2 linked regions of the Homo sapiens genome follow. The protein of the gene in region 2 purifies or fractionates together with the protein of the main gene of each other region. This does not show direct contact. Each region holds a gene or a part of one and is shown on either strand. Other genes may lie near its edges.

Evidence for each region. Proteins that work in one complex are often made in the same cells at the same time.
Region 1: the proteins of POLE (region 2) and PRIM1 fractionate together in Homo sapiens (co-fractionation; 2 studies listed by BioGRID). This does not show direct contact.

What each region holds. Positions count from the first base shown.
Region 1 is NC_000012.12:56,731,050-56,735,354, forward strand, and holds the end of PRIM1 (DNA primase small subunit), read right to left. Parts: intron 3,197-4,305; coding exon 3,098-3,196; intron 686-3,097; coding exon 666-685; 3' UTR 531-665; downstream 1-530. UniProt on the Homo sapiens protein: Catalytic subunit of the DNA primase complex and component of the DNA polymerase alpha complex (also known as the alpha DNA polymerase-primase complex - primosome/replisome) which play an essential role in the initiation of DNA synthesis.
Region 2 is NC_000012.12:132,642,343-132,649,342, reverse strand, and holds part of POLE (DNA polymerase epsilon catalytic subunit A), read left to right. Parts: coding exon 1-37; intron 38-270; coding exon 271-414; intron 415-5,316; exon of another isoform or gene 5,317-5,365; coding exon 5,366-5,506; intron 5,507-5,782; coding exon 5,783-5,936; intron 5,937-6,012; coding exon 6,013-6,119; intron 6,120-6,346; coding exon 6,347-6,523; intron 6,524-6,613; coding exon 6,614-6,837; intron 6,838-6,945; coding exon 6,946-7,000. UniProt on the Homo sapiens protein: Catalytic component of the DNA polymerase epsilon complex. Participates in chromosomal DNA replication.

The sequences.
Region 1 (4,305 bases), about 76 Mb from region 2:
ACGTATCAAGTGAGCTGAGATGACAGTCCTATTACTGCTCACTTACCTCTATATATGGCAACTAGTAGAACTGGGTATTTATATCAGAAGCCTTAGAATTATCCTTGTAGAATATTGAATTTTACAAAATTATCTGCAATCCACTTATGCCTCCTTTTATTTCTCCTTCCAGGAACCTTGACACTCTCCTTGGTCGTCTCAGGAAATCTTACTTTTTTTTTTGTTTTGTTTCTTTTTTGAGATGGAGTCTCGCTCTGTCGCCCAGTGGCTGTGATCTCAGCTCACTGCAACCTCTGCCTCCTGGGTTCAAGCAATTCTCCTGCCTCAGCCTCCCAAGTAGCTAGGATTACTGTATGCACCACCACACCCGACTGATTTTTGTAGTTTTAGTAGAGACGGGGGTTTCACCATGTTGGCCAGGCTAGTCTCGAACTACTGACCTCAGGTGATCCGCCTGCCTCGGCCTCCCAAAGTGCTGGGATTACGGGTGTGAGCCACTGCACTTGGCCAGGAAATCTTTTCAACATAAATTATTTCTCAAGGAAAATTTACTTTGAGGTTTAAGACACATATATAGTTCTGCCATATTTATTAAATGGCTCTTGAAGTATTTGATCTGTGGTTGAAGGCAGAAGATATCCACAATGGTTTGAGGAGCTCTGTCTTCAGAAATCTTTTTGTAAATCTAAAATAGAATAGATAATATATGGAAGAACAGCAAAGGAAACAAAACAAAGCCCATTTACTTTTACATTCTTTTTTGCCTAATGCTTCTATTTAACACACATCATGCACAAAGATTTGCTTACACATTTGCTGAAGTCCACATCATAGGCTGAGCTAGTATGGAACAGTGAGGATACAAAGGACTTAATACGGCCAGTTGCAATGGCAGCTTCAACCAGGCTTTCCAAGCTCAGAGTTGTTGTTCATCCAATAATCACACATATGAGTGTCTACTGAGTAGAGCATTATCTTAGGCACTACTGCTTAAACTATCACATATTTAAATAAAAAATGAAGTGGCAAGATAATTTGTATTGCTATAACATTGTCACAGTTTTCTAGAGTAGCCTTCATCTCTTGAATAATATTCAATCTGCTGATTTTTTTCATATTGGCTTATACATATGCTCATATGTCTCCCATTTAGAGTACCCTTCATTTGACACTGCTATCCTCTTTGTGTTTCTTTCCAGTTATTATATGCAGCAGGATTTTATTAGTTTCCTACTGTACCTGACACTTGATAATCTTGCACTTTTCTTTCCCCTGGCTTCTATAACATTTTCCCTTCCATCTTTCATCTCTTCACTTCTAAATCATTAGCAAGTCTCAAGGATGGTTCCAGTATTTGCACCTTTCGGAGATCTCCAGTGCTACTGTTCTAGTGGCAATAGCGCAGTTGGCCTCTTGGGCTCTATTCTAGTCCCTGTCTTGCCCAGATTTATCTTTCTAGATAAAAACTACAAATCATGGCATTCCCTTCCTCAGAACTTTTAAAAGCTTCCTATTAAGCCCAAAACCAAGCCCAAACACATAAGCTTGGAATTCAAGGCCATTCAGTTTGCTTCTTTGGATTTATAGCCCATCACTTCTGGACACACCATATACTAGATTAGCTGTACTACTTGATGGCTTCCAGAGTAACTGGATGCTTTCCTGTCTGTCTTTGCTCTTGATGTTCCTTCAAGAATGAACAACCCTTGGCCTTTTTCCACCTCCATACCCTTTATCTTATCATATTTCTGCTTGTGGAAATCCTTCTCATACCTTATGGTATAGTATATTGGCATTAGGGATTAGAAATTTTTTTTTTTTTTGAGATAGTGTCTTGCTCTGTTGCCCAGGCTGGAGTGCAATGGTGCGATCTTGGCTCACTGCAACCTCCACCTCCCAGCTTCAAGTGATTCTCCTGCCTCAGCCTCCCAAGTAGCTGGGATTACAGGCGCACAATACCACGCCCGGCTAATTTTTGTATTTTTAGTAGAGACGGGGTTTCACCGTGTTGGCCAGGCTGGTCTTGAACTCCTGACCTCAGGTGATCCACCTGCTTTGGCCTCCCAAAGTGCTAGGATTACAGGTGTGAGCCACCGTGTCCGGCCTAGGGTTTTTTTTTTTTTTTGAGACGGAGTTTTGCTCTTGTTGCCCAGGCTGGAGTGCGATGGCACAATTTCAGCTCACTGCAACCTCTGCCTCCTGGGTTCAAGTGATTCTCCTGCCTCAGCCTCCCTAGTAGCTGGGATTACAGGCTCCCACCACCACACCCAGCTAATTTTTTGTATTTTTAGTAGAGATGGGGTTTTACTATGTTGGCTAGGCTTGTTTTGAACTCCTGACCTCAGGCGATCCACCTGCCTCAGCATCCCAAAGTGCTGGGATTACAGGTGTGAGCCACTGCACCCGGCTAGGGATTAGAATTCTTACAGCAGCTACACTGAAAGGAGTTCAGATACCACCATTTTCATATGAAATCTCAGAGTCCATCAGATAAAATCTCTTTCTTAGCATTTTGTACTTTTTTTTTTGTATTAAGTTAGTACTTCTTTTTTTTTTTTGAGATGGAGTCTTGCTCTGTTGCCCAGGCTGGAGTGCGATGGTGTGATCTCAGCTCACTGCAACCTCTGCCTCCCCGGTTCAAGCGATTCTCATGTCTCGGCCTCCTGAGTAGCTGGGATTACAGGTGCCTGCCACCACGCCCAGCTAATTTTTTGTATTTTTAGTAGAAACAGGGTTTCACCATGTTGGCCAGGCTGGTCTCGAACTCCTGACCTCAAGTGATCCAACTGCCTTGGTCTCCCAAAGTGCTGGGATTACAGGCGTGAGCCACCGTGCCTGGCCAAGTTAGTACTTCTTAAGGGCAAGGAGGCATGATGTTAATTCATCTTTGTCTCCCTTATAGACCTGATACTTAGAATGTGTTTAATAACTATGTGTTAAATTGAATTAAGGAACCTCAATTTCCAAAACATTAAGGATAGTAAGATAAATCTGTAAATTTTGGGAGGAGGGCAAAGAAAGACTAGAACTCAAAAATTGCTCATTTCTACTAATAATAAGATCTAACTAGATAGAAGGGAAAGGCATAGCGTCTTACCACTCTTCTTAAGAAGTTCTCCTTTTCGGGATTTATCCAGATTTTCAAGAAAATGTTCAAAAACTTTCACATAAGGTGCTAGACTGGTCTTCTTATAATCTAAATTATGAAGAATGTACATTATAATTAGCATACTGGCAGCAAGAATAACATGAAAACACAACTAAGTTTCTTATAAGAATTCTCTAGGGCTGCCCAATTGAAATATGAGAGAAACATACATACTTTTAAATACTATATTAGTCACATTAAAAAAGGTGAAATTATTACTGAGACAGGATTTCACTCTGTCATGCAGACTGAAGTACAGTGGTTCCGTCTTGGCTCACTGCAGCCTCGATCTACTGGGCTCAAGGGATCTTCCCATCTCTGCTTCCTGAGTAGCTATAACTACAGGCATGTACCACCATGCCCAACCAATTTTTTTTTTTTTTTTGGTATTTGTAGAGACGAGGTCTCACTCTGTTGCTCAGGCTAGTCTTGAACTCCTGAGCTCGAGTGATCTCCCAGCCTCGGCCTCTGAAAGTGCTGGGATTACAGACACATGCCACCATGCCCAGCTAAAATATTATTTTTGCATGTAATAAAAATTGAGATATATGATACTCTCTTTCATACAAGTCTTTTATATTTATATATATATATATAATATATATACATATATTTTCTTTTTTTTTTTTTTTGAGACAGAGTGTCACTCTGTTGCCCAGGCTGGAGTGCAATGGTGCGATCTCGGCTTACTGCAACTTCCGCCTCCCAGGTTCAAGCAATTCTCCTACCTCAGCCTCCCGACTAGCTGGGATTATAGGTGCCCGCCACCACAATGAGCTAATTTTTTGTATTTTTAGTAGAGATAGGGTTTCACCATGTTGGCCAGGCTGGTCTCAAACTCCTGACCTCATGATTCACCCACTTTGGCCTCCCAAAGTGCTGGGATTACAGGCGTGAGCCACCGCGCCCGGTCCATGCCTTTATTTTTGAGTCTTGCTCTGTTGCCAGGCTGGTATGCAGTGGTGCAATCTTGGCTCGGGAACCTCCGCCTCCCGAGTTCAAGCGATTCTCCTGCCTCAGCCTCCTGAGTAGCTGGGACTATAGGTGTGTGCCACCATGCCCGGCTAAGTTTTTGTATTTTTAGTAGAGACGGGGTTTCACCATGCTGTCCAAGATGGTTTTGATCTCTTGACCTCGTGATCCACCTGCCTCAGTCT
Region 2 (7,000 bases):
CCGCAGCATCCTGGACCTTCCGTGGCAGATTGTGCAGGTATAGACCTTGATCCAAGGGGAGGGCAGTGGCTCTGCTGATGGCCCAGGGAGGGGGTGTCCAGCTGGGCCCTGAGGTCTGGGATGGGAGGGTTAGAGTGGGCCTGGAGTTTCCTGCCCATCGTAGGGAGGCCTAAGGCCCTGTGCTGGGAGCTGCAAGCTACCTGGAAGGTGGCCCCGTCTGTGGGTTCCAGTGTGTCCTGTGATGTGCTGTATGTCCGTGTGGCCTTTCAGATCAGCGAGACCAGCCAGGCCGGCCTGTTCAGGCTGTGGGCGCTCGTTGGCAGTGACTTGCACTGCATCAGGCTGAGCATCCCCCGTGTGTTCTACGTGAACCAGCGAGTCGCTAAAGCGGAGGAGGGTGCTTCGTATCGCAAGGTAGGGAGGAGCTGGTGCTGCCTCTGCAGTCATCTGGGCAGCCTGAGGTGGCTTTCCCATGATCTAGCCTGGCCTCCAGCCTCCATCTCCTCAGTACCTTATGGGGATGTTCTAGGAATTCCTCAAAACAACGTGTGTGAGCGCTGAGCACCGAGCCTGGGGCAGAGCGAGTGCCGGGAATGGAGCTGCTGGTGTCCTTGTCACGATGAGCTTGTCTGCCCGCGAGGTCCATGTTGCGGGGACAAACCAAGTGGCATTGGTTAGAGATTGTGAACTCTGTCTCCGTAGGCTCTTTGGTTGTTAACAGCTTTATTGGGATGTAAAGTTACGCCATCCAACTCACCCATTTAAAGTGCAGAATTCAATGACTTTTAGTGGCATGACTATTGCCAGTCAATAGTGACATTTTCTTTTTTTTTCTTTTTTTTAATTTTACTTTGATTTCTGGGATCCATGTGCAGAAAGTGCAGGTTTGTTACATAAGTAAGCACATGCCATGGTGGTTTGCTGCACCCATCACCCCGTCACCTGGGCATTAGGCCCCACATGCATTAGCTGTTTATCCTGATATTCCCCCTCCCCTCACCCCCCCATTCGGATATTTTCATCACTCCAAAAAGAAACCTGGCATCCCTTACCTGTCACCATCCTCCCCCAGCCCTCAGTAGCCACTGATCCACTTCCTGTCTCTGGGTTTGCCTGTTTGGGCATTTGATGTAAATGGAACCCTACAGTAGGTGGGTCTTTGTGCTGGGCTTCTTCCACCTGCAGAAACTGCGAGGGTTTTCATGTGGCCATGAGTGCGCTGAGGCTCTTAGATGGCATCTCCACCCGAACTCCCCGTTGTTAATGTGTCGGCTCAGCACATTTCTTGACTGGATGCTGTGAATCACGTAAGAAGTGACACGTAGTTGGGGAGATGAGGTGTGCATATTTGTACCTACACAAGGAGGTTTTCTGGAGAAGGTGAAACTCGATTCCAGCCAGGTGATTCAGTAGAATGTGCATATAGAAAGTAGACGCAGAGCCAGGTGTGGTGGTTCACACCTGTAATCCCCGCACTTTGGGAGACCGAGGTGGGCGGATAACAAGAGGAAAGCGGACGCAGAGGCATCGAGACCACAGAGAACAGGTGGGACTGTGGGGTTTCTACACCTTCCTTTCGATGCGTGGTGCTGTGGTGCTGTGGCCGTGTGGAAGTGCCCTAACTTTTGGGATGTTTCCCTTTATGACTATCAGCTCATCTCGAGGGAGGTTCTGGCGCTGTGTGAATATTCTGTCCTCAACGTTTGACTGGATGGTGTCAGCATCCATGTCTCGTGGGGTCCATGGGGCTCCAGGATGATATCTTCAGATTCTGTTCCTCTGTGTGTATTAGCTGTTTCCTTTATAACGAAGAGCTTTGTGCAGATCAGGTAGAAATGAACTCTATTCCTTAAAAAGCAAGATACGAGAGGGATAATACGCTTTTTTTTTTTTTAAGCAAGATAAATGCTTTTTCCCTTTAAATTATTTTTAATTTTCAAGGTAGGGCATGGCAAAATGGGTTTATTCCTTTCATTTTTCCTCTCTTTTTAAAGTATTACTATGGATTAGAGGATTTTTGTTTAACTTTTTTGTTTCTGTTTTTGAGAAGGTCTCTCACTCCATCACCCAGGCTGGAGTGCAGTGGCATGATCTTGCCTCACTGCAGCCTTGTACTCTTGGGCTCAAGCAATCCTCCTGCCTCAGTGTTTAATGTTTTAACATCAACCGTAGCCAAATCCCGCCCAACACACACACGTTAGGTATGTTAAGGTACACGGTAGGCCCTCACTTTATGTTGTTGATAGGTCCTTAGAAACTGCAATTTTAAGTGAAATGACTAAGTAAGATGATGTATAATGAAACAGATTTTTTTTCTTCTCAGAAACTATAATGAAACTGTGTTGGCCAGGCGCAGTGCTGCATATCTGTAATCCCAGCAATTTGGGAGGCTGAGGCTGGTGGATTGCTTGAGCTCAGGCATTCGAGACCAGCCTGGGCAACGTGGCAAAACCCCTTCTCTACAGAGTATTTTTTAAATTTATTTATTTTTATTTGTTTGTTTGTTTGTTTTGAGATGGAGTTTCTCTCCTGTTGCCCGGCTGGAGTCCAGTGGCGCATCTCGGCTCACCGCAACCTCCGCCTCCCGGGTTCAAGAAATTCTCCTGCCTCAGCCTCCCAAGTAGCTGGGATTACAGGCACGCACCACCACGCCCGGCTAATTTTGTATTTTTTAGTAGAGATGGGGTTTCTCTGTGTTGGTTAGGCTGGTCTCGAACTCCTGACCTCAGGTAATCCATCCACCTCGGCCTCCCAAAGTGCTGGGATTACAGGTTGAACCATGGCGCCCGGCCCCAGAATTTTTTTTTTTTTTTTTTTAAAGGAAGAAAGAATGTTGAACAAAATGATGTTATTTGAGGACCTGCTATACATTACTTCACTTAACCATCACAGTTTCCAGGAATCCATTGATGTTAAGTGAGGACTTACTGTAATTTACATATAGTTAAGTGCAGATTTTTAAATGTGCAGTTGATTGGGTTTTTGGACACATGACTATGCCTGTGTCACCCACACCCCCACCCAGGTGCAGAACGTTTCCATCACCCGGGAGGGTGCTCTTGTCCCCCTGTGCAACCTTCTGCTGGCCTGATTTCTGTATTTCTGTAACTGTGTGCATGTGACTTTCTAGAACTTCATATTAATGGAACCAGACAGTAGACTCTTTGGTGGTCAATATCTTCTTGAGACTCAAATTATCCCAAATTGGGCTGGCCAGATCCCTTCAAGCTGGCACCTGAGTCCTTTTGACATGCCCTGTTGGTCTTTGAAAACTTCCTTGCTTTTTGGCCACTAAGAGAGGCCAGGCTCACCTTGAACTTCCAGACGTGGAATTAGCTGTTCCTCTAAAGAGCCTGAGCCTCGTTGAGAGGTTATGTTGAGAAACCAAGCTTAGAGCTCAAGGGGTATCATTTCATCTAGATTCCTTCAGTGAACAGCCAGGAAATATATACATTTTAAAAAGTGCAATTACACTAATTGTTCCAGTTCATATTTACCAGAACATAATTTTTCATTTCTTTGATTTTGTGTGTGTGTGTGTGGGTGTGTGTGTGTGTCGGTCTAATTTCATGTTACTGGAAAAATCTAACCCTACTGGTTCTCTTCTCGCTTGAGAATTATTCAGATTTTCCTGGTTGTTGTTACGCCAAATAACGCTTTATTGCAACCTGGACATTTTACATATTTGAGACTTTGGGTATTTTTAAAAATCCTTTAGCGTGTCAGGTTTTTTTGTTTGTTTGTTTTAGCAACAACCAACACGGTTAATTCCAGTGCCCAAGCTCTTCCTTGCCTCTTTGTGCAAAGCTTCCAATGTCAGCTCAGCCTCCAGAGCCTCTGCTGCGTTGTTTTGGGTCACCTGTGCAAGTGCAGCTCGTAGTGAGCCTGGGACTTGTGCTGCTGGTTCATGCATGAAGCTAGGGTGCTCCTCTCCAGGATTCCCCCAGCCCCCCACACACGAAGCTAGGGTGCCCCCTCTCCAGCTCTCCTCTCCAGGATTCCCCCAGCCCTCCACACAGGGAGCTAGGGTACCCCTCTCCAGCTCGCCTCTCCAGAATTCCCCCAGCCCTCCACACAGGGAGCTAGGGTGCCCCCTCTTCAGCTCTCCCAGACCCCCCAGGACCCCACACAGGAAGCTAGGGTGCACCCTCTCCAGCTCTCCCAGACCCCCCAGGACCCCACACAGGAAGCTAGGGTGCCCCCTCTCCAGCTCTCCCAGACCCCCCCAGGACCCCACACAGGGAGCTAGGGTGCCCCTCTCCAGCTCTCCCAGACCCCCCCAGGACCCCACACAGGAAGCTAGGGTGCCCCCTCTCCAGCTTTCCCAGGCCCCCCCAGGACCCCATTCACGAAGCTAGGGTGCCCCTCTCCAGCTCTCCCAGACCCCCCCAGGACCCCACACAGGAAGCTAGGGTGCCCCTCTCCAGCTCTCCCAGACCCCCCCAGGACCCCACACAGGGAGCTAGGGTGCCCCCTCTCCAGCTCTCCCAGACCCCCCCAGGACCCCACACAGGGAGCTAGGGTGCCCCTCTCCAGCTCTCCCAGACCCCCCCAGGACCCCACACAGGGAGCTAGGGTGCCCCCTCTCCAGCTCTCCCAGACCCCTCCAGGACCCCATTCACGAAGCTAGGGTGCCCCTCTCCAGCTCTCCCAGAGCCCCCCAGGACCCCACACACACACTCTGGCTCCCCCAGGGGCTCTCTTTCCGTTTCTCTGACTAGGAAAATGTGATTTCTCTCAGTTTTTGCCATCTACACCCTCAGGTTAAACCCATGAGAGAATGGAGGAAGATGAACTGGGAACCTCCCCAGATCAGTGTTGACTGCTGTATTCTGACAGCTCTTGTCTATTCTCAGAGGCTGCAGGTTGCTTTTCAAAATTGCGTCCAGAGGCCAGGCATAGTGGCTCACACCTGCAGTTCCAGCGATTTGGGAGGATCACTTGAGTCCAGGAGTTTGAGACCAGCCTGGGCCTCATAGTGAGACCTCCTTTCTACAAAAAAAAAAAAAAAAAAAAAAAGCCATCCGTGGTGGTGTGTTCCTTGTCCCAGCTACTCAGGAGGCTGAGGCTGGAGGACCACTTGAGCCCAGGAGTTGGAGGCTGCAGTGAGCTGTGATCACACTGCTGCACTCCAGCCTGGGCAACAGACTAAGACCCTGTCTGTAAAAAATAAATAAATAACATAAAAATTACATCCAGAGTTTTTAGTTGTAATCATTGAGAGAGGTGGACTGTGGCGTGGTGGGTGTACCCCGTCGCTAGGGGCACCAGAAGTCTAGGACTCCGAATAGCGTGTGCTTTGTGTGTGTACCACAGACATTACCACTTACGCCCAGTGACGAGATCATCGTCGTATTCTCGCCAGGTAAATCGGGTCCTTCCTCGCTCCAACATGGTCTACAATCTCTATGAGTATTCAGTGCCAGAGGACATGTACCAGGAACACATCAACGAGATCAACGCTGAGCTGTCAGCGCCAGACATCGAGGGCGTATATGAGACTCAGGTGACTCCCCAGCCACCCTCGACTGAACTGGGGGAGGCTCCAGCAGGGTGGTATGGAGGAAAGAAACCCGCCCAGGGTGTGGGCTGGGGAACAGCAGCGACAGTGGACTCGTTCCCACAGGTGAGGTGAATGTCAGCAGTGTGTCTGCCAAAAGTGGCCTTTGGGCAGTGGGCCGGGCAGCTGCAGGGGCACAGCCACATCCCGGGCAGAAGTCACGTGGGCAGCCAGAGCCCCCACCATCCAGCCCTTGCCGGCCTGTCTGCCCGATTCTTCCAGGTTCCGTTACTGTTCCGGGCCCTGGTGCACCTGGGCTGTGTGTGTGTGGTCAATAAACAGCTGGTGAGGCACCTTTCAGGCTGGGAAGCAGAGACCTTTGCTCTTGAGCACCTGGAGATGCGCTCTCTGGCCCAGTTCAGCTACCTGGAACCAGGTATGGCCTGCACCAGCCGCCCATCATGTGCCTGCCTCCCACACATCTGGGGTGACGGTCTTGTTTCCTTCTCCAGGGAGTATCCGCCATATCTACCTGTACCACCACGCACAGGCCCACAAAGCGCTCTTCGGGATCTTCATCCCCTCACAGCGCAGGGCATCCGTCTTTGTGCTGGACACTGTGAGTCCTGGGCCCTCCATGGCAGCACATTGGCTGGGGCAGGGTTTGGGGAAGGAGGACATCTCCCAGGGTGCCCAGGCCCTCCAGGTCTTGTCCTCAAGGGCCTTTGCCCATGAGTGCTTGTCGTGATTGAATTGGCAGTGCCGTGGCAGTGGTGGAGTCTGCCCCAGGGCTGCCCCCACTTCCTCCTGCGCAGGGGGAGGCTGACGTGGCCTGCGTTGGTCTAGGTGCGCAGCAACCAGATGCCCAGCCTTGGCGCCCTGTACTCAGCAGAGCACGGCCTCCTCCTGGAGAAGGTGGGCCCTGAGCTCCTGCCACCCCCCAAACACACCTTCGAAGTTCGGGCAGAAACTGACCTGAAGACCATCTGCAGAGCCATCCAGCGATTCCTGCTCGCCTACAAGGTGAGAGTGGTTGGGGTCTTGCTGTGTGAGCCCCATCTTCTTTGAGGCTGGGTCCACCCAGGTCTTTTCTTCCATTTTGCCTTGACCCAGGAGGAGCGCCGGGGGCCCACACTCATCGCTGTTCAGTCCAGCTGGGAGCTGAAGAGGCTGGCCAGTGAAATTCCTGTCTTGGAGGAATTCCCACTGGTGCCTATCTGTGTGGCTGACAAGATCAACTATGGGGTCCTGGACTGGCAGCGCCATGGAGCCCGGCGCATGATCCGTCACTACCTCAACCTGGACACCTGCCTGTCGCAGGCCTTCGAGATGAGCAGGTGAGCACAGTACTGTCGTTGTGGGCCAGTGGTCCCCAGGCAGAGCCGGCCTCGGTGGTCTCTGTGACCCGGCGATGTGCCCCGGTGCTGACCTGTGCCCTGGTGCAGGTACTTTCACATTCCCATTGGGAACCTACCAGAGGACATCTCCACATTCGGCTCC